2 separate regions of the Homo sapiens genome follow, and region 1 is linked to region 2. The links come from fine-mapping of genetic effects on gene expression. Tissue or cell type: whole blood. Region 2 holds a variant in brackets; the other region holds the start of a gene. All regions are shown on one strand. Distances are between the middles of the regions.

What was found.
Region 1: it holds the start of ZAP70, and the variant in region 2 is fine-mapped to the expression of ZAP70 in whole blood (TOPMed, PIP above 0.99).

What each region holds. Positions count from the first base shown.
Region 1 is chr2:97,707,910-97,718,535 of GRCh38, reverse strand. It overlaps ZAP70 (zeta chain of T cell receptor associated protein kinase 70), which reads right to left and starts at 4,960. Exons shown (of 14, transcript NM_001079.4): 1 at 4,862-4,960; 2 at 4,542-4,620. RefSeq lists enhancers at 1,917-2,431, 2,432-2,947, 4,179-5,152, 10,240-10,626 and a silencer at 7,126-7,315.
Region 2 is chr2:97,755,425-97,766,050 of GRCh38, reverse strand. TMEM131 (transmembrane protein 131) reads left to right here. Exons shown (of 41, transcript NM_015348.2): 36 at 3,851-4,016; 37 at 5,137-5,258; 38 at 5,362-5,458; 39 at 6,302-6,399; 40 at 6,998-7,158; 41 at 8,668-9,715. The coding sequence ends at 8,952. It also overlaps a transcript of ZAP70 not described here. Among named protein-coding and RNA genes, the nearest start is that of ZAP70, 47 kb to the right of the region's middle. RefSeq lists enhancers at 1,830-2,611, 4,547-4,766. The variant T/AT (reference allele first, on the strand shown) is at 6,046.

The DNA.
Region 1 (10,626 bases), 48 kb after region 2:
CCACCCCACACACACAGGTCGGGTGGTGGGCGCCTCCTCTTCCACCCCTGGGGCCTTTCTGGACTGTCCTCACTAGTAAAACATGGGGCCCAAGTTCCCAGGGACCCCATGGCCAGAGATGCTGGGGAGGCCAGAGAAGGTGGGCAGAGGTGGCAGAGATGAAAAGTCCGGGGGCAAGAGGTGGGAGCATTTGCCACGCAGCGGCTAGCCGGAGTGTCTGCTGTCAGTGAGCTGCACCGATCTAGAGCTCCCCGGGGTGACCCCAGACCCCAGGCAGGGGATCAAATGTTTCTGTTCTCAGCTGTGTCCCTGCAGACTCGTGGCCCTCCCAGAAGACACACCCACCATGAGACCCACCCCAGCCCTCGACCTGCCTGGGCCATCCCGACGGACAGGACTTGGGTTAGGAGCCGCGTCCCTCAGTCCCCAGTGAGCCTGTTCATTCCCCAAGCCTGGCCTATGGTTCTCCCTAGGCTGACCCCAGTCAGCTTCCTCTTGAGCTCACAGTTCAGAGATCCTAGTTTGGCCTTCCCAGAACTTACAGCCCCTGGATCACAGCACAGAGATCACAGCAGAGCAGCCACGGGGCACCTGCCCCACACTCACAGCCCAGGCCCTGGGAGGATGATGGGAGGAAGCCTTGGAGCCTGGTCAGAAGGACCTGCCTGGAATCCCACCATTCACCCAGCCTCCCTGGGTAAAGGCAGTGCTAGATTACAGCTGTTCCAGAGAGATCAGATTCCCCAAACATGCTTCAAAGGAAAAAAGAGTCAAGGGGTCAAATACAGTTTCAAATGCTGTGAAAAGCACATTAAAGGCTCCGAGAAGACCACATGGAAGGACCTCTTTCAGCGTCACTTAATTCCCACACCTATTCAGCAAAGCCTTGAAGGTCTACTGTTTCACAGAACATTCCCTGGGCATCAGAAGCCCCCATTACATGCCCATCGTCAGAGCAGAGGTATCACACCAAAGCCACTGGACCTGGTGGGAGCGGGCAGGAGCAGCACAAGCTCCACATGTCCCCCCAGCCAGAGGCTCCACGTGTCCCCCCAGCCAGAGGCTCAGAGGCTCCTCGTGTCCCCCCAGCCAGAGGCTCCACATGTCACCCCAGCCAGAGGCTCAGAGGCTCCGCATGTCCCCCCAGCCAGAGGCTCCGCATGTCTCCCCAGCCAGAGGCTCCGCATGTCCCCCCAGCCAGAGGCTTGACATGTCCCCATCCAAGGCTCTGCAGGAGCAGGGCCCCAGCCCCTCACCGCCCCACCTCCTCCTACTGCCCCCCCACCACCCTGTTCCCACTCCAGCTCCTGGCTCTCTCTCTCTGAACCCCTAGTCCTCACCTGAGACCCTAAGTCCCTCTGAAGCCATGTTCCCTGCTCCTTAATCCCCCAGCTGTGCTCGGGCCGCCTGTGCCCACCAACAGAGGCAGCATAGGCACTGGTCGTCAGCACACGCCAGCTTGGTGACGCCATGAGCCACACAGCCGCAGTTAGCCATGGCTGCAGGCTCCTCCTTCATATGTCTTTCCTGACTGCAGGGATTGGATTCAAATCATGGAATCGTGGACCCACCACATGGTCACAGTGCAGCCTCAGCAGCGAGTGAAGCTCGCCAGACCTCCTCCGGAAAGCAGGGCCAGTGAAGGTGTCCAGCACTGGGGCTGCAGGGACTCCCTGGGGTGAGACTTGCTGGCCCCCGTCATGCCATCACATCCTCTTCTCTGCTTGAAGCCCTCTAGGCTCCCACCTCACTCGGGGTGAAAATGCAAGTCCTCAGGGTGGCCCCCAAGGCCCTTCATGATGCCCATCACCACCCCCCGCCACTCACTCCCCTCCAGCCACACGGGCCTCCTCATGTTATTCGTTCAGGTCCCTCGGACAAACCAGGCATGGTGCAGCCTCAGGGCCTTTGTACTGTCTGTTCCCTCTGCCTGGAGACTCTTCCTCCAACACCTTCCACTTTATTCAGGTCTCTGCCTAAGTCACCTCCTCCAGGAGGCCTTCCCTGACCTCCCTCTCCAAAATAGCCTCTCCTTCTCTCTCTAGCCCTGACCCAGCTTTGTTGTTCTTCACCACCTAAAAGATGATATTGTATCTATTGGTGACATAGTACCTTTGTCCCTGCCAGAATGTAAGCACCACGGGAGTGGAGCCTTTGTCTTGTTCTCCTACCTATACCAGCATGGCACAGAGGAGGTGCTCAATATACCAGGTACCTACAAAGGTCTGCAGTCCACTGGGATGGGTGGGGATGCCTCTGAGCACCGGTGGAACCTGACACCTGGGAAGGGGTGAGGGGCCACAGGGGCTTCCTTGGGTGGAGGATGGCGGGAGAGGAGGGGCCCATCCTGAGGATCCTGGCCACAGGCTATTCCCTCAGCCCAGAACTGCGCTGCATCCTTCTACTGGGCCTCCGGCTTCAGGCCTCCTCCGTTGTCCCATCCTCCCAGAAGCATTCCATGAGCCCTGCCCCCTCCCCAGCCTGGGTCAGGCACCTCCCCTAGGCTTCCAGGGTCCCCATCCTCCCACATCACAGCCCTGATGGCCTCTGTCTCTGCTCCTCAGTCCCTCACCAGGCTGAGCTCCCCGAGGCAGGGCCCACGGCTCTGTCTTGTTTTCTATGGAAGCTCCTGCTTCCTCCCCACAAATATTTGTCAAGTGTGTAAGGACAATCACAACAGCCTCTGTGCTGGGGACTGCACTACCCTTTGCGAGCATTAGCCATTTATTCTAATTCTCACCACAACTACATTTGGTGGGAACTGTTATCCCACTCCTCAGCTAAAGAAACTGAGGCTCGGAGAGGTCAATGTCACTCTCAGAACATGCAGCCTGCAAGGGGCCACCAGGATTTGAACTCAGGTCTGTCCAATGCAGCAGCCAGCACTAACCACTCCAGCAAATGTCTATTAGGAGACCCTGGAGAGCTGGGCTGGTGCGGGGTCAGGGTCAGATTCCCCAACCCAGCACACTCTCCAAGTGTCTGTTGATTGAACAATGCCCTTCCACCGCCCCTCCAGTGAGGCCCCCAACTCCGGCCTCCACTGCCTGTGTGACCTCAGCAAGCAGCGGTCCCTCTCTGGGCCTCAGGCTCTGTGACTGTAAAAGGGAGATGGGAAAAGGCGGTGTGAGTCAGGAGGATAGGGGCTGATAGAGACAATGGAACAGGGTGGGACTGTCCTGGGCCTTGTAGGCTGTTCACAGGATTCCTGTCCTGGACATGCTGGATGCCAGTAACACCCGCTGGGTCACAACCCAAACTGTCTCCAGGCACTATCAACTGTCCCAGGGAGACGGGAGGAGGTAAAATTGGCTCTGATGAGAATGGCTGCCTTAACCCTGTACCTTGGGGTGGGGCAGGGAGTGGTCAGCACGGGGTGGTCTGGGTGCTGCAGCCCCGGAGAGCATACAGGAACTGTGGAGTCCAGAGCCCGAGGCCACCCAGAGCTAGTGAGGATAATGAGGGTTTTAGTGAGACCTTTCTGCAGCACCTGTATGTGCCGGGCAGTGTGGATACAGTCACTCTCTTTATCCTCCCGAGAGCCCTGGGAGGGAAGCACAGAGAGATGCGGTGACTGGTCCAGTCACACAGCTGGTGAGTGGCAGAGCCAGAATGTGAAGCCAGGCCCCCAGGCTCCAGAGTGTGCACATCAACACCACCCCCGCAACACTGCCAGGGCAGTGGGGCTGAGGATGGAGGGCAGGTGTGAAGAGGAAAAGGAAGCTCTGGATTCAGCAGGAGGCAGCTTCACAGGTGGCACCTTAGGAGTCCCTGACCCTGATCTCTCAGCAAGGCATTATTAAACACCTCCTGTCTGCCTACTGTTCCAACCAAGACGAGAGTAATGAATCATCTCGAGCTGCTCACCTCATGAACTCCTGTTCCTTCCTGTCGGGGATGCTTCCTACCTGGGACACATTTCCCAGCCTCTCGCCAACAGTCAGGAACCAGGCGCCTGCCAGGTGCCCATATCTGCATGTGCATTTAACAGATGCACAAACTGAGGTCAGAGAGGCCAAGCAACTTGCCGAGAACACACAGCAGTTGAGGAGAACTCGGTGTTTTGCTCTTTCTCTCTCCAGGTCTTCCTCTAACCTGAGCTCGCCTACAAGTGGCTCAAGCCTGCCCTGGACTCCTCACAGGAATCACAGCATTCTGCTGATGGAGCTCACGGCCCTGGTGAGCAGCCCCCTCATCTTCACAGAGTGCACATGCGCTTTCTCTGGAGGTTTCTCTGCCTCCGAGAGCCAAGGATGCAGCCAAACAGGGCCCAGCAGGAGCCCAGGGACTGAGCAGGCCTCACCGTGTCCCCTGAACAGCCCCGCTCGGCCAAGCCTCTGGAGGGGGAGCTGCTTCCCTCAGCGTGGCCACAAGCCCCGTCTGCCTCCATCTCCAGCCAGTCACCACCCAGCCCAGTCCTCCAGCTCTCCTGGTCCTCCCAGCAACCTCCTGACTCCCAGTTAATATTCTGTCTTCCTCCTCCAGACACAGCCCACCATGGAGACGGTGGCCAGGTGCCACTCCACCCAGGCACCACTTACCTGGGGACGTACAGGTGGATGTCCAGGCAAACAGGCCACTTGCGGGGTCTCTGGTCCCAATGCCAATGGAGAGCCGGTTCTGGGTGAGGAATCGGGGCTTACAAAGCCGGTTTGGATTTCCCTGCAGCCCAAGCCCCCAGCCTGAGAGGGAGGCCCTGCCGCTCACACTCTCCGCACACACCCCGGGGGAGGATGTCACACCCCGCCAGGGTTTCTCACTCATGGATGGGGGGGGTTCATCCTCTGCCAGGTCTCCCAGAGCCCCCTGGGGTGGCCCTGGTGGCAGGACACAGGCAGAAGGCCCGAGGACAGCCGCTTACCTGAATGCCCCAGCAGCAGCTCTGAGGCCCACGGTGGGCCAGGCCTGCCCGGAAGGCCTGGTGTCTGCTGAGCTCCGGCAAGCAGGCTTGTCTGAAACTAACCTATTTCCTGGATGCGAAGACAGGAAAGGGGGCTGTGTTTGATGTTTACATCAAAGTCACAAAGTGCTGTGCTCAAGGAAAATCACAGGCCACGTGCTCCAGGGAGGCAGAGGGCATTTCCGGGGCCCAGCACTGCCTGCCCAGCTGCAGGATGGGACTGAGAGATGGGAATGAGGCTAAGCAAAGGCAGGGTTTCAGGAAGGACGACTCCAGCAGCAGGAACCGTCAGAAGGGAGGAAGCCTGCATACCTGGAACCGGAGGGTAGGCAGCAGTGGTGGGAAGGAGGGGAGTCCCAGGGCTCATGGAAACTGGAATGCCCCCATTTTCCCCTCAAAGGGGCGTCGCCCTGGGGCCTGCACCAGCTAGACAACCCAGAGGAGTGATTTGTTTATTCCACAGGCAGGTTAGAGCTGGAGGGAGGAGAAACCCACTGAGTCAGCCCATACCCCGAAGGTGAGAACCCCTTCTGTGCCAGGCATCTGGATGGCAAGGACAGCCTGCCCTTGCTCTCCAGTGGCTCGCAGGCTTGTTGGGGGCAGCTGAGTCCACAGGGAGCCAGGGCTGGGAGGCCGGAAGCCTGGGCACTGTGTGTCCCCAGAGTATCCCCAAGCCAGCCTGGAGGATGTCAGGGATGCGTTCCAGGAGGAGTCAGCCACCCAACCGAGACACAGAGCCAGGGCATCCCCAGTGCTAGCCCGGCCCACCTGGGACCTTTCCCACGAAGCTGAACCTGGCTGAGTGCCATCCCGCTGTGGCCACCACCTCCTCCTCCTCTTCCTCTCCTCCCTTCCCTCACCCTGTGCACCCCCTACCCTTGGGCCTGGGGCCACACCTCATGCACTCTCTCAGAGAGGGGCCTGCAGAGCCACTCCCTCGGCTCCATCTCCCCTCTAGTGCCCCAAGGCCTCTGGGAGCCCCTTGCCCACCACCTCCTTGCTTTCTTGGGCACTAAGGGAGTCGTCACAGCTCTCCTGTCTGTGGGGCCTCAGAGACCTGTGTGGAACTGCCCTGGGCCCACTGTGGAGACTCCTAAAGCTTTTCTTCTTGGGGTCCTGCTGCCCTTGTTAAGTGGGCTTGTGATACCCTACCTTGTTTTAACCTGAATTGACTCTCCCTTAGCTAAGAGAGCCAGACAGACTCCATCTTGGCTCTTTCATTTGCAGCCCCTTACCCACCCCGCTTCCTCAAGGACTTAATTTGTGCAAGCTGACTCCCAGCACATCCAAGAATGCAATTAACTGATAAGATACTGTGGCAAGCTATATCCGCAGTTCCCAGGAATTCGCCCGGTTAATAGCACCCAGAGCCCCGGCGTTTGTGTCCGGTTGATAACGCCCAAAGCCCCGTGTCTATCACCTTGTGATAGATTTTAAGCCCCTGCACCTGGAACTGTTTGCTTTCCCGTAACCATTTATCCTTTTAACTTTTTGCCTGCTTTACTTCTGTAAGATTGTTTTAGACCCCCACCTGTCCTTTCTAAACCAAAGTATAAAAGAAAATCAAGCCCCTTCTTTGGGGCTGAGAGAATTTTGAGCACTAGCTGTCTCTCAGTCGCCAGCTAATAAAGGACCCCTGAATTCGTCTCAAAGTGCGGCGTTTCTCTGTAACTCGCTCGGTTACAACAGGCTCAGCTCCCCAGTCTGCCTGAGGATCCCCTCACACCCTACCCCGAAGCCTCCTTGGGGACCTCCTTTCTGGCCCTCTACTATCCTCTGGCCGCCTGAATCCCCTTTAGAAAATCTGAGTTCCGGCTCTAGGCTACTTTTCTCCTTCATACAGCCCCCTCCAAAATGGTGTTTGCTAGCAGCCTCCCTTTTCCCCAGCGGCATCTTGAAACTCCAGGTGCAGCAAGCATCCCTTCACATCCATGCTGGACGCTCATTTCTTGGAGTATTGAGAGAAAAAGACACCGGCACCCTGAAGAGAGGAGAAATTACAGCATCAAATCACATTCATACTACAATAATGAGAGTCGCACTGATTATGTGCCAGACATTGCTGTACGCACATCACAATTAATAAGCCATTCAACCTATTTTCCAGATAAGGTAAGTAAAGCCCAGAGAGGTTAAGAGATGCCAAGTGGCCAGGTGGGATTGCAGCCCAGGCAGCCTGACCCCACCCACGTGCTGCTGGACATAAAAGAAGAAAACTTTGGTTGTAAAATATCTCCCCGAAGGAGGCCAGCGCCCCAGGGAGCTGGAAGCTGAGCCAGCTATGGGACAGGGTGCCTCTGTGTGGGTGGGGGGCTTCCAGTTTCCAGGGTCTTCAGGTCCTGAGAAGGGGATTCCCAGCCTCTGCAAGGCACTGGCCCTACAACCCTTGAGCCCCCCACTTCCTGTCCCAGAGGCTGGTCTGGAAACTACAAAGCCCAGTGCTCAGACAGCTCTGAGATTGGGCTACAGATAATCCGAGATTGGCATGCAGATAAGGTCCTCTGTTCTGCCAGAGTGGAAGGAGGTGGATGCATCTTTTGAATGTTTACAGTAAAGGGCAAACGGATGGAAATGTGGGCTAGGAAAGTTGCGGTGCCTTTGCCTCATCGGGTTGGGGTAAACATTCACTCTACTCATGCCAAGAGCCTCGAAGAAATTCATCAGTCACCCCCATATCCTCAGGTCTTTGCCCACACCTCTTCACCTGCCTATTTCCTAGTCCTCTTTCAGGTCTCCAATTAAGCGTGTTTTCCTCCAGGAAGGCTTCCCAATCCTCAGACCGGGCAGGGATGGGCTTTCTGTCCATTTCACCTGGAGCTGAGCAGGTCCAATCTGGCTGCACAGTTAAGAGAACACAAGCCACTGCTGGGAGACGTGCAGCAGGGAGATAGGGTGGAGGCTCCAGCAGGCCCGAGAGGAGATACACCCCAGTGCAATGAGCCCCAAAGGAAACAGGTCCATCCAGGGCCCCTCCTGGATTCCCTCTGGGTGTACAGAAAAATGGTGACTTTTTTTTTTTTTTTTTTTGAGACGGAGTCTCGCTCTTTCACACAGGCCGGACTGCAGTGGCGCTATCTCGGCTCACTGCAAGCTCCGCCTCCCGGGTTCACGCCGTTCTCCTCCCTCAGCCTCCCAAGCAGCTGGGACCACAGGCGCCCGCCACCGCGCCCGGCTAATTTTTTGTATTTTTAGTAGAGACGGAGTTTCACCGTTAGCCAGGATGGTCTCGATCTCCTGACCTCGTGATCCACCCGTCTCGGCCTCCCAAAGTGCTGGGATTACAGGCGTGAGCCACCGCGCCAGGCCAAAAATGGTGACTTGTATCTCCTTTCCTTCTGGTTCTTTTCTGGTTCTGCCACTTAACCCTGAGGGACCGTGAGCACGTTACTTAGCCTCTCTGCGCCTTGGTTTCCTCCCTTAGGAAACGGGGATAATGGTACCTGTCTTGTAGGCTGTTGTGAAAGTTAAAAGAGGCCTAAAGGCAAATGCTCCATTACTGCTACCACCACCGTCATCTCTCATGTCTAGTGACTGCGCGTCCGAGTGCAGCAACGGGATTCCCTTGCGCCCTCCAGGGGCAGCTCTCCAGTATTGCAGGCTGCCAAGCACAACTCAGGCGTCCCTGAAGGCTGAAAGTGACCACCGCCCTGCCCTGAAATAAAAAAAATTAATCCAGCTGGTTTAAGTCAGAAAAGAATTGCTTGACCACAGCAGCCACATGCTGTGCTCTCCCCTGGGGGCTTCTCAAGTGGATGGCTCCTTCGGAAGCCTTCAAACTGCCATGGCACTGCCACCTCCTGAGACCCCTGGCTACTTATTTATTCAATACTGAACACCCGTTCTATGCCAGACTCTTTTCCGGGTACTCTGTTCTATGGATCCGCAGTGAACAGCACATGAAAATCTCTTCCCTCATGGAGCTGACATTCTAGTGGGAGAGACAGAGAATGAACAAAATAGATAAATATTTCATAGAGTATGTCACATGGTTACAGGTGCTAAGGAGTAAAATAAATCAGAAAGGGTAGGCGAGGTCTTGAGCATGTAATTTTGAGCCAGTCAGGGCATGCCTCGGAGGGGATAACCTGTGAATCAAGACTTGAAGGTGGCTCACGCCTGTAATCCCAGCACTTTGGGAGGCTGAGGCAGGCAGATCACAAGGTCAGGAGATCGAGACCATCCTGGCTAACGGTGAAACTCCGTCTCTACTAAAAATACAAAAAATTAGCCGGGCGTGGTGGCGGGCGCCTGTAGTCCCAGCTACTCGGGAGGCTGAGGCAGGAGAATGGCGTGAACCCAGGAGACGGAGCCTGCAGTGAGCTGAAATTGCGCCACTGCACTCCAGCCTGGGTGACAGAGTGAGACTCCGTCTCACAAAAAAAAAAAAAAAAAAAAAAAAAAAAAAAAAAAGACTTGAAGGAGATGTAGGAGAGAGCCACGGAGATACGGAGATATTGGGGGAAGAGCATTCCCAGCAAAGGTCTTAAGCAGGACTGTGTCATCTGTGAGGTAGGAACTATCTTGTTCCCAGCTGCGACCCCAGCAACTGGAGTGGTACCTAGCACAATAGTACTCAATAAATATTGCATGGATGGGTGAAAAAATCCCACATATGCGCTTCAGGAACAGCTTGCTCTGGGCTCAACTGATGACCCCAAGGTTGTTGGCTTCATTCTCAGACAAGGTTTCTCCCTATGGTCCAAGAAAGTCACTCAGCTTCAAATCCTATTCAAGGAGCAAGAATCTATTTCTCGATATTACCGGAAAAACCCCCAGCACAGCTCATTGGCTGAGTAGATCACCTGTCCATCCCCCAGCCAATCCCTGACGCCAGCGGATGGCATGGGGACGTGGCTTAGGACCAGGTCACATGCCCCACCCACAGCACACTCTGGAAGGAAGGAGTGGCTGGAAGGAGGAGAAGGGATGCTGGGTGGGCAAAGCGCTGAAGTCTTGCAGAATATTCATAACAGCTTAAATGCATCTATTTCTTTCTATCAAGCACGACTGCGTGCTGGCCCCAGCTAAGGTACATTTAACGCTCACAACAGCCCCAGCGAGTAGTAGATTAGCCTCATTTTACAGATCTAGAAACTGAGACCAAGAGGAAACTTAGGCTTGAAATTCCACAGCTAGCAAGTGGGGAGCCTGGGACCTCCTGGCTCAAAGGGAGCTTGGAGCTTCCACAGGGCTCCACCCTGAAATCCCCTGTGCTATCAGGGTGACTGCCGTCATCCAGCTAGGGACAAGCAGGCTGAACCAACCCTGAGCTAAAGCTGCAAGGCCTTAGCGTGAAGGCAAACTGACAGCGCAAAGGCAGCCACCTCTTTGATGAAGAAAGGGAAATGGAAATGCTAGTTCAGGGCAGCTCCCAGGGGCCCACAGGCCATGCGGGGACTGTTGGCAGAGGCTATAGGCGCTGATAGGGCTTGTTCCTCAAATGCAAGCCCAGGGTAGAGGTAGGAGGCCAGCAGAGGGGTGGGCTGCCTCTCAGGGCTGGGGTCCCAAGAAGTTGCCATGAGGATGGGACAAGGGTGCATGTGCAACCTGTTGAGAATTCAAGGAAAATCTGGTATGCTTGCTGTGCCTGCTGTATGCCCAGGCTGGGGCAGCTGCATCTCCTTCCAAGCGCAGAGGACCCCAGCCACCTGCTGCCCTACAGCCACCCCACATCCAGCCCAGCACAGGGCCTGGCACCCGGCAGGTGTCCAATAAATGTTTGCTGC
Region 2 (10,626 bases):
TGGAACTCTTCAGGGGCATGTTGCTTTAAAATACCCATTGACAGTGCTTTGCCAGCTAAGAGCCCATTGTTAACTAGCCTAATCAGTGGCTAAACTGCCGTAGGTTGAAATCAGTCCTGGTAAGATTATTTACATCAGGGGACTCATTCAACAATTCACATCAGGGCTTTTTTTTTTTCAGGGAGCTGGTATACTAGCACACCACTGCCCAATGTGCAAAATGGAATGGTCTGTTTGGAGTGGTTAATCTTCTAAAGAATTGTTTGCCTTATACAAGTATTGACTTAGCTATCCTTTACCTGATGAGTTCCTCATTTATAGTGTAATTGTTTTTGTAAGAATTCCATCCTCTCAACTTTACCCACATCTTTTTACATGAGCAACCTACACAAAGGTTTCATTATTTTTCTCACTACCTTGACCTTGTTTCTCCAGTTTGGCCTGCAGTAAATCAAGACAGTAGGCACAGTCAACCAAAATAGAAATCCTCACCCTACAGACACTTGACCTGAAATAGGGGGCAACAGAGACCAGAAAAGGGAGCAGCTGACAGCAGGGATTTGAGATCAAGAGAGGTCCTGGCTTTAGGACTGATTGGTCCGCACTCACCACTGTGTTGGAGTGTACCAGAGGGCAAGTCAGGAAGACCAGAGATGCAGTCAGGTTTGAGCAACAGTCGGGTCATTGAAGGTGAAAGGAGTTGGACGAAGGGCAGGCTCACTGGGCTGAATGAGGGCAGAGAGCCTTGGAGGCTCGGGTAGGGCGTCCACGCTCTCGCCGGAATGTGTAGATACATCCTGGAAAGAGATGCTCTCTGAGATACATCCTGTAGCCCTATTTGCCATGAGACTTTCTGGCACCTTTTAGTACTACTTTTTGCCAGGGGTGGGATACAATCCTAAATCCTTCACTCAGCAAATCTTGAAGAAGACCGTGGGTGGTCCGTGTGTCCAGGTGGGATGCTTCTGCTTCCTAGCGCCCCCTGAGGTTTCTGCTGGCCATTGGCTCTTGGCTTAACACTCCACGATTTAGGCAGTTCCCCATTAAACAGATGCCACTTTCAGCAACAGAACACAGCCCCTGGAGCCAGTTTCACAGGGGTGTTCTGAGGCCCAGTGAGGTGACATGAGCCGTGTTGGTGACGTAATGACACAAGCATGCAGAACCATGCTGCCGGGAGAGCAGGTGACAGCCAGACACAGCCACAAACTGGCTGGCAGCATCCCCACCTGGTGGCACCTGAGCCACATGTTGACATCACTCCTTCTGTGTGGAGGGGAAAGGATGACAGGACCCAACCCCAGACAGGAGATTTTGGTGCCACTCCTCGGGGCAGGAATGTGGGAAATGGCAGGCCAGCCCTCTGGAGGAGGAACTGTGAAGGGCCCAGTGCCGCATGCCTCAGTTTCCTGCCTGGCTCTTCCACAGAGGCCAGCTGGTGCATCTGAGCATGGCGCCTCAGGGCAGAGCTCCACGGTGGGCACTGGGGGAAGAGATGCAGAGCTTGTCTCCTCAGCCCACGTCTGTGCAGTCCTTTTGTGTTTTTCTAGCCAAGCAGTCCCTTACACTGGTTCCAAGCCCTGTGACCTCTCTGCCCTCACTGCCAGCGTTACTAAAATGTTCCAGCAGAGCTCCACTCGATAGAGAATATGGGTGGAGGAAACCCAGAAGAGTCGGTCCCACATGCTCTCCATCACTTTTACCTTCCTGCTCTGCCCCAGCTTTCTCATCCCCTTTTATCCCTTCGCCTCCCTTGGTGTTTCGTCTTGCTTAGACCTGAAGTTCTGCGAGCGCTGTTGGCAGTGCCAAGCTTAGTGCAGTTCCTTGGGGTGAAAGCGTTGGTCCCACCCAAGACTGTGCAGCCAGCATGTGGCAGTAGCCGCTGGGGGAGTTGTGCAGCCTCTGTGTAAAGATCTCTCCATCCCAAGTAGCACCCCTTAGCATGGTGCCCTATACCATCTGTACCACATGAGTTGCAGAGAAAATGCTCCTTGAATAATTTCATGATTTAAAAAGGCAAAAAATACAAAGGGTTATTAAAAGGAAAAGCAAATCAGAAGCCACAAAGGAAAATTTTAATAATATTTGAATCAAAACGTTCTCTAATTGCAGCTCGTGTACTGTTCAGAGTCTCCCCTTCACTCCTACCTCAAGCACTGTTCAGTAGGGGCTTTTGCTAACTTCCCTTTGCTTTTCCTGTTTCATTTCATCATCACTGTCTTGGGAGCATCTGTAGTTCTGGGCCCTGTGAAACACATTCCACCCACAGGAGCTGCCCGCACCTTTCCCCAGGACAGGCACCTCGGGAGGATCGAGCGCACACAAAACGGAGCACAGCCTGCTCCAAGTGTGGGCACTGCCTGAGGGGACGAGTCACTGCAGGGGCGGAGCGAGGCCAGAGGAAGTGGCTAGGGAAGGGTCAGGACAGTTGTACAAATAGCAAGCCGACAGTGTAGACGTGGTGTCAGATGGGAGGCCTCAGAGGAGCTTGATGGGGACAAAGATTCGAGCAGGGCTCGTATGGGAGAGCGGTGTGAGACACGTCCTGAGTGTGGGCATCAGGTCAGCAGATCCACAGAACCAGCGAGGAGGGGCCCATGTCATCAAGGGGTGAGAGTGGGCGGGTGGGAGACAGGACCGTGAGTCTGGCACCAGTACCAGCAGCACTGGGGAAGGTGAGAGAGAAGGTAGCAGGCAGCCCTGAGGATGGCGGAGTGGAGAGCACGGGCTTCCAAGGGAAGGCTGCTTTGCTCGGCAGGGCCATGCTGGAGGCTTGACCTAGCCAAGACATGGGAAACCTTGAGCCCTGAGCCCTGGGGGTAGGGGAGAAGCAGCTTGTGCTACAGGGTGTGACCAGGGAAGCAAGAGGCAGCAGGCAGAGCGGCTGCAATGTGGCAGTGAGGGGACGGGAGAAGTGGAGCCGGGGGTACTCAGGGTACGCGGAAATCTCACAAGGCAGGAGGGGCCAGCCAGGTAGCGAGCTGGCCAGGCCTGGGCTGGGGATCGTGCCCTGTGGTGATGGGAATTCACAGGTCCAAGCTCTCCCCCACCTTCTTCCTCTTGCAGTAGCTACAGCAGCACCAAGTTGCACACAATAGATGTGCAAAATGATACATTTTTCTGATAAAAGGTATACATATTTCCGTTTACTGAGTAGAGAATGTTATTTTATGACTGAAATTTTTTGTTTTAATTTCAGAGATGGGGTCAGGCTGGAGTGCAATGGTGTGATTATAGCTCACTGCAGCCTCAAACTCCTGGCTCAAGCCTCCCACCTCAGCCTCCCAAAGTGCTGAGGTTACAGGTCCGAGCCACTGTGCCCAGCCTGTTTTAGATTTTTAAAACAGCTGTATAGACATTACTTTAAAGGGCACAGGAATATACTAGGAGCTTAATAGGGATCAGAGCTGCACATCCCAGTCACGCCAATGGAGAGGCTTTACTGAACTTGGGGATTCAGCCCGGAACACTGCACCTCCCACAGCTGTAAACCTGCGTGTAGGCACAAGGATTTTCCAGGTCCCCAGGCAGCGGCCTCAGCTGTCCACCCCTGGAGGATGTGGAAGACCCTCCTCCCCTACCTGAGGTGGGAGAAGTGAAGACATTGACTGTCCGCCACACAACACAGCAGGGACCGGGCACGCTCTTGCTCCCCTCAAATCCCCGAGTGCAGAGAGATGTGGCTGCTTTCTCTTTAAAACCTGTTAAACAGAACACATCTAAGAGCTTTCGTTTGTTTTCTTTGTAGAAGGGCTTGAGTTATGCATAGTCTTAGAGAACATTCAAAGTGATTTGGAAGAGCGCTAATCAAAACACCACACTAACGAGCCCGTTTGTTTTTAATTTCCAGCTACTGATAGTCTTTATAAACTTTCTCTGCAAACCCTCAACGCAGACATTTTCTTAAAACAACGCCAGACCTCACCGACACCTGCTTCCCCGTCTCCCCCAGCTGCCCCCTGCCCCTTTGTGGCCCGGGGCAGCTACAGCAGCATCGTCAACAGCAGCTCCAGCAGGTAGGCCTGCTGCTTCCTTTCCGGTTCTCAGCTTGAAATGTGCCTAAAACCCGATGTCACACCCTTTAAATGGAAACACTTAGCGGCCACAGGCCACTGTCTGGTGTTACTTCTGATGGCTGCCAGCTTGTGTGGACCCTTTTACCTGGGGTCCACCCCCGCTTCCTGCTGCTGTGCCCAGCTCCAACAGTAACCCGGTTCCCATTCTAATCCATTCATTCTTACCACCTGTGGACCGAGAAATGCACCATTTAACTCACTAGAGTGATATTCTCAGTGAGCCAATGAACATTTACTAAGCCTTACATGAAGACCTAAAGGGGATTCCTGTGAGTTGGGAGTATGGGTTTATGTGACACTAATTTTGGCCTTTGGACAATTTGGCTTAGGACTTAGAAGGGCAGGACCTGGTCCAAGACCGTTGTGCTGGGTGAGGTGCTGCAGTAGGGGATGTGTGCACCCGGGAGGGCAGCCTCCTGACCACACAGACAGGATGCAGGAAGCATGCTGTTCTCCGAGGCACGGAGCCTCACTCGTGTCCGCCTGCCACAGTGTACCGCAAGCCTGACAGTCACGGATGGCACTCTCACCGTGTGCCTCGCCGTGGCGTGGGTTTCTGTGCATCGCGTCACCGGCCAGCCTAGGGTCAGGTCCTCCCCGCCGTTGCCCAAGAGGCAGTAACCACTGAGGCTGGGGGAGCCACCCCGCTTCTGGGCCTTGCCACAGGAGCACCTCGCCGTGTCCTGGCAGGGAAGGAGACTCCCTGAGGCCCCGCCCTTTCCGGTGTCGGTGGCTGCCCTCTGCATTTCCTGCCGAGTGGCTCTCTAGCATTCTTCACAAAAGTGTGATCGAAGCCTCTGCCAGTCCCTAAATTGTGATCCCTGCCCTGGTCTCTTTCATAGTGATCTTTTGTTTTCTTACCTTTCTCCAGAAAGCCCTCTATCTCTGTCTGATTAAGCAGTCTGAGGCCCCAGAGCATGTGACATGAGGCTGAGCGATGCTCTGTGAGCTGCCCCGCTGCAGAGAAGCCCACTCAGGGCTCAGTCCTGCCAGCCCCACACCTCCCCGAGACAGGGCACTGCTGATGAGGAATGAGTTCTCTCTTTGCTTCTTTTTCAAGTGACCCTAAAATAAAACAGCCAAATGGAAGCAAACACAAGTTGACAAAGGCAGCCTCGCTCCCGGGCAAGAACGGCAACCCCACTTTTGCTGCAGTCACGGCTGGCTACGACAAGAGCCCAGGTCAGTGCCTTTGCTTCAGAGACCTGCCACGCCAGGCGCCAGGCCTGGTGGAATGACCTCTGTCCTAATGTGCCTTCCATTGATTGAACGTCCATTGTTACAGGTGGGAATGGCTTTGCTAAAGTTTCTTCAAACAAAACAGGTTTCTCCAGCAGCCTTGGCATTTCACACGCTCCTGTTGACAGCGATGGCTCAGACAGGTACGGTAGACCACCACTAACCGCTAGAAAGACGGAAGGCTTCTCAAGTCGGGTTAGCACCTTTTTATCCATAAATGGGTTTCAGGGCATTTTTCCCCTAATTTACAAGGAGGCATTTGTCAGAAGTGGTCAAGTGCCTCTAAGAAATCATGTCTGCTGGGTGGAAGCAGAAAGCCGGCTGCGGTGCCTTCCCCAGGGGGTCCAGATAGAGAAAGGGGGCACCCATGCCTGTCTCAGCCAGGCAGACACACGTTACACCTGTTCTCACTCTCCTCCATCTCCTGGTCTGTGGTAAGATGTGATCTGATCATTAAAAATAGAAGAGCGAAAGTGACTTGGGAGGGGGGAAATCTGGAGCAAATACTAGCCAATTTATAGTAAATCACTGGCCACGCCTCTTTCTTGAGCAGGCTTGTTTATCATGCAGGGGGTGTGGTGGCCTGCAGCAGTCACCTTGGTTGACTTTTCCAGATAAGCAACAATAGAGCCCCAATTTACCTACTTTGCACTAATAGGAAATGAGTTCTAGATTTGAAATAGTTTTTAAATAAATCTTCCAGTACCAAAAAGCAAACAGAAGGAAAAAA[T/AT]GTCTGTTTCTCTGCAAAACACTTGCTTTGAACCTGGCTGTGAGCTAGTGATAGGGCATCCGGAGCTCTGGGGCTCCCTCCGACTCAACCCTTGTGGTAAGCAGCCATTGTTCAGCTCTTCCTTTTGTCTGTTTTTAATATTTGAGTACCCCCAGTTGAAGCAGTGTCTCCTGTTTGTGAAGCTGTGCACTATGGATCCGTTTGCACTAACCACCATACATTTTTGTGTGTTGCGTTTTCCTCTTGTAACATTTAGCTCGGGTTTGTGGAGTCCCGTCAGCAACCCAAGCAGCCCTGACTTCACTCCCCTCAATTCGTTCTCCGCCTTTGGAAACTCTTTTAATCTAACTGGTGGTGAGTGTTTAACACTAGATGTGTAACTAATAAGCCTGTGGACAGAGGAAGGGAGAGGAGGTGTGGTTTTGTGTGCTGGAGAACACAGCACAGCAGCACTGTGGAAGAGGCCCCGCAGGAAGCTCCCTGGGAAGGGTCCCCTCCCCTCTTCCTCCCTCATCCACACCAGCAGCCCAGAGGGGCAGTGGACCAGGCTCGACACGGTGTGCGCACACCAGTTGGTGTGAGTTCCATGGCGGGTATTGAAGGGCTTCACAGAAGGGTTCTGGTCTGAAATGGGACCCCTGAGTGTGCCAGGGGTCCTCTTCTTGCTGTCCAGAACTAGAGGTCACCATGGAAGCTTCCCATTAGCTATCATGTGAGAGTGGGGAAAGTTTGCATTTGGATGTCATTGGTGGCATATCAGCTCGTGCACTATGCGTTTGAGTTCTGGAGGACACTCCTGCCCCTACTTCCTCTGGGCTGTGGTGGGCTGGTGAAGTGGGTGTGGTGGCTCCAGGAGCAGTGGTTGGAGGTATGCCATTGAGTGAAGCCCCATATGCTATAGTGATCATGGCAAAACCAAATATGGACTTGATGACTGTTGCTTTATTTCCAGAAGTTTTCAGCAAACTCGGATTATCTCGATCGTGCAATCAGGCCTCACAGAGGAGCTGGAACGAGTTTAATAGTGGCCCTTCATACCTTTGGGAGTCGCCAGCGACAGATCCCAGTCCTTCCTGGCCAGCCAGTTCCGGCTCCCCGACCCACACAGCCACAGTGAGTACTTGGGGCTGGGGCTGGGGCCTGGACCTGGCCCACCCACTCGCCATCTGCCATTGCTGTGACATGGATGGCACTGACATAGTTATAAACAACAAACAGCAGCATCAGAGGGGTGGGTTAGTACTTTTATTGTCTCCATTGCTTTGTCTTCATATTCTGTCAAAATGACTGATCGATGTTCTTCAGAGCCATTACAATCAGGAAGTTTTAGGAAGAACAACTGAACAGCTATGGGGTTGGTCTCTGGAGTCCCTCCTAATAGCTCAAGGGCATTTTCTGCCTCTTCCCAACCTGTAAATGGACCACAAGGGTGACCATAGGCCTATGGCAGGTTCAGATGGTTGAGGGAAGCCTTCGGCATCTGTGCAATGCAGCCACTGGCCACCCAGGAGCAAGCTAGATACTGCATTTACTTTGTTGCTGAGAAGCACCTGTCTCTTAGGTTAGATTTTCAAGAGTGCATTTGTTTGCTTCTTGGCTAAAGTCTTCTGCAAAGACCATGCTGAAAAGAGTATTCTTGCCAAGGAAAATAATTAGTGGTTTTGGCTTCCACAAAATTATGACAGAAAAATATGACCCCACTGTGTTTGCCTCTTTGTTCTCAGAGAAACTAAACATGCAAGGTTTTATAACAGATATTTCAACTTTACAGATTCCAAAGGTTGTCTTCATGTGTAATTATTCAGCCTTATGTTTTAAAACCACCTTAACCATTCTTTAAAAGAGAAGTCAGCAAACTTTTTTTTTTTTTTTTTGAGACAGAGTCTTGCTCTGTAGCCCAGGCTGGAGTGCAGTGGCACAATCTCGGCTCACTGCAAGCTCCGCCTCCTGGGTTCATGCCATTCTCCTGCCTCAGCCTCCTGAGTAGCTGGGACTAGAGGCGCCCACCACCACACCCGGCTAATTTTTTGTATTTTTAGTAGAGACGGGGTTTCACCATGTTAGCCAGGATGATCTCGATCTCCTGACCTCGTGATCCGCCCACGTCGGCCTCCCAAAGTGGGAGTCAGCAAACTTTCTATAAAGAGTCAGATAGTAACTATTTGAGGCTCTGAAGGCCATGCTTCACCACTGCCATTGCAGTGCACAGGCCGATGGGCGCAGCTGTGTTCCAATACAACTCTCTTTACAAAAGTAGGCAGAGCTGGATTTGGTCCACAAGCTGTCTTTTTTAAAATATCACAACTAGCCGGCATGATGGCTAGTGCCTGTAATCCCAGCACTTTGGGAGGCTGAGGTGGGAAGATCACTTGAGCCCAGGAGTTTGAGGCTGCAGTGAGGCATGATCACACCACTGCACTCCAGCCTGAGTGATGGAGCAAGACCCTGTCTCAAAAAAATCAGAAACATCTGCTCAAATACATATATATAACATTTGTTCTAAAGTAAACAAAGTAAGAGGAATGCGTGCCCCAGCCTCATCTTTTCTGTAGCCTTACCCCCTTACCCACTTGACCCTCTGCCTGCCGGGCTCAGTGCTGGACGCTTTCTGTTTTGTCGCAGTCGGTCCTCGGTAACACCAGCGGCCTGTGGTCCACCACTCCATTCAGCAGCTCCATTTGGTCCAGCAACCTTAGCAGCGCCCTTCCCTTCACCACTCCAGCAAACACGCTGGCAAGCATCGGCCTCATGGGCACAGAAAACTCCCCTGCTCCTCACGCTCCCTCCACCTCCAGTCCAGCTGACGACTTGGGACAGACCTACAACCCGTGGCGGATATGGAGCCCCACGATTGGAAGAAGAAGCTCGGACCCTTGGTCTAATTCGCACTTTCCTCACGAGAATTAAATTAAGCAAAAAACAAACAAACATAGTGGGCCCTCGTCTAGATCATGATGTGCCAGTTTCTGAGACATCTTTTTAAGGCTCTTACTGCAGCTCCCCTCCCCACCCTCCTCTTCTTTGCAAAACAGACCCAAGCAGGGCAGGCTCAGACCACTCGCTTCTTTCAGATCTTTCTTGCAATTATGATAACATGAGATTTGCTGTTGTGCTTTTAGAGAAAAGTCTGGACTCAGCCACAAACTCTAATAAGACCTGTACATCTGAGAACCTTTCCCGTTACTGCGTTTTCACCACCTGTCTTCCCCATGCTTTATTTATCTGTATGAACACAGATTTGACATTACAGCTAAGGAAATAATTTGAGTTGATTCAGAAATCCTGGCATGTGACAATTTTGTTAAATTACCAAGTTTGGTTTTTAATAATTTCTCAATATTATGCGCCAAGATCTAATTTTAAAACTGTATGAGGACTTTGTGCTGAAAATAGAGTATTTTTTTAAAGTAAGGCTGTCTTGGTTTAAAAGCAGATTACAGAAATGTAAGTCAACTTAAGAACGGTGAATGAATGTAAAAACATTCAGTTGAGACCATATGCATTTTCTGTGCTGTTTGTACTTGAGGTATGTAACATTTGTATACCTGAACTTATTTTAAAGATGAACTGAAATGCACATAGCCAAGTCTTGAGATACAAGATTGAATGTGTATTTCTTAAAAATACAACTTTGTGTTGTACTTTGAAATAAATGATGCTTTTTTCAAAAGCCTTGTTTTGTGGTTTTTTTTACACACAAGGTGTATTTATTAGGATTTTCTCACACCAAAGTAAACCACCTTATCCTTGCCTTACTCTGTGGAGCTGACAGGTTAAGACGGGGTTTGCCTTCTCATTGCTGGAACTTCCTGCAGTCTAATGGAGTTCTGTGTGTTCCCATGGCAATCATGGAGGGTCCTTGATCGAAAACAACTTGAAAGCCTGTTTGGATTCATCCAGTAAGCGTTTTCCCTCTGCCACTATCCTAAAAGGCCTCATAAAAAGCAGTAATTGCTACCATTTATTGAATACTGACTCTGTCAGGTACCTGGCTAACACTTTGGGATATGTTGGGTTACTCCATTATACTTGAGGAACCTGGCTGGGCAGTGCTGGCTCAGAGGCCCCAGGTCAGGCTGACCGCAGATTCACATGGCACCCACTGTGCTGCCTTCCTTCTGGTCACAGTCACCATTCTCAGGAACAGTCTGTGTCCAACTCACCACTGCATGTTCTAACACTGGCCAACCTTTACCAGCCTTCAGTCTGAGGAAGTTGTATGGTGAGAGGAAGACAGAAAAGGAGAGAAGCGGGGCACAGAGGGAAGACAGCAGGGGCACAGAGGGAAGACAGCAGGGACTCGGGCAGCCTGGGGGAGGGCTCTGGGGGCCACCTGTGGGAGCTTACCAGCAGCAACACAGCATGCAGTGCCCCTTTGGCCCTTTCATTTCTAAATGATGGCTTGGAGACAAGGGGGGATGCCTTGGGCTATGGCACAGGGGCTGGGGGTACTAGAAACAGCTATTTACCCACTGGTATTAAAATGCTTTAGCAGTTTACCTGCTAATACAGCTATACCCCAAAGCCAGGCTGGATGGAAAGCAACCTGTGTGCTACTGAGGAATGGAGCCACAGGTGGCA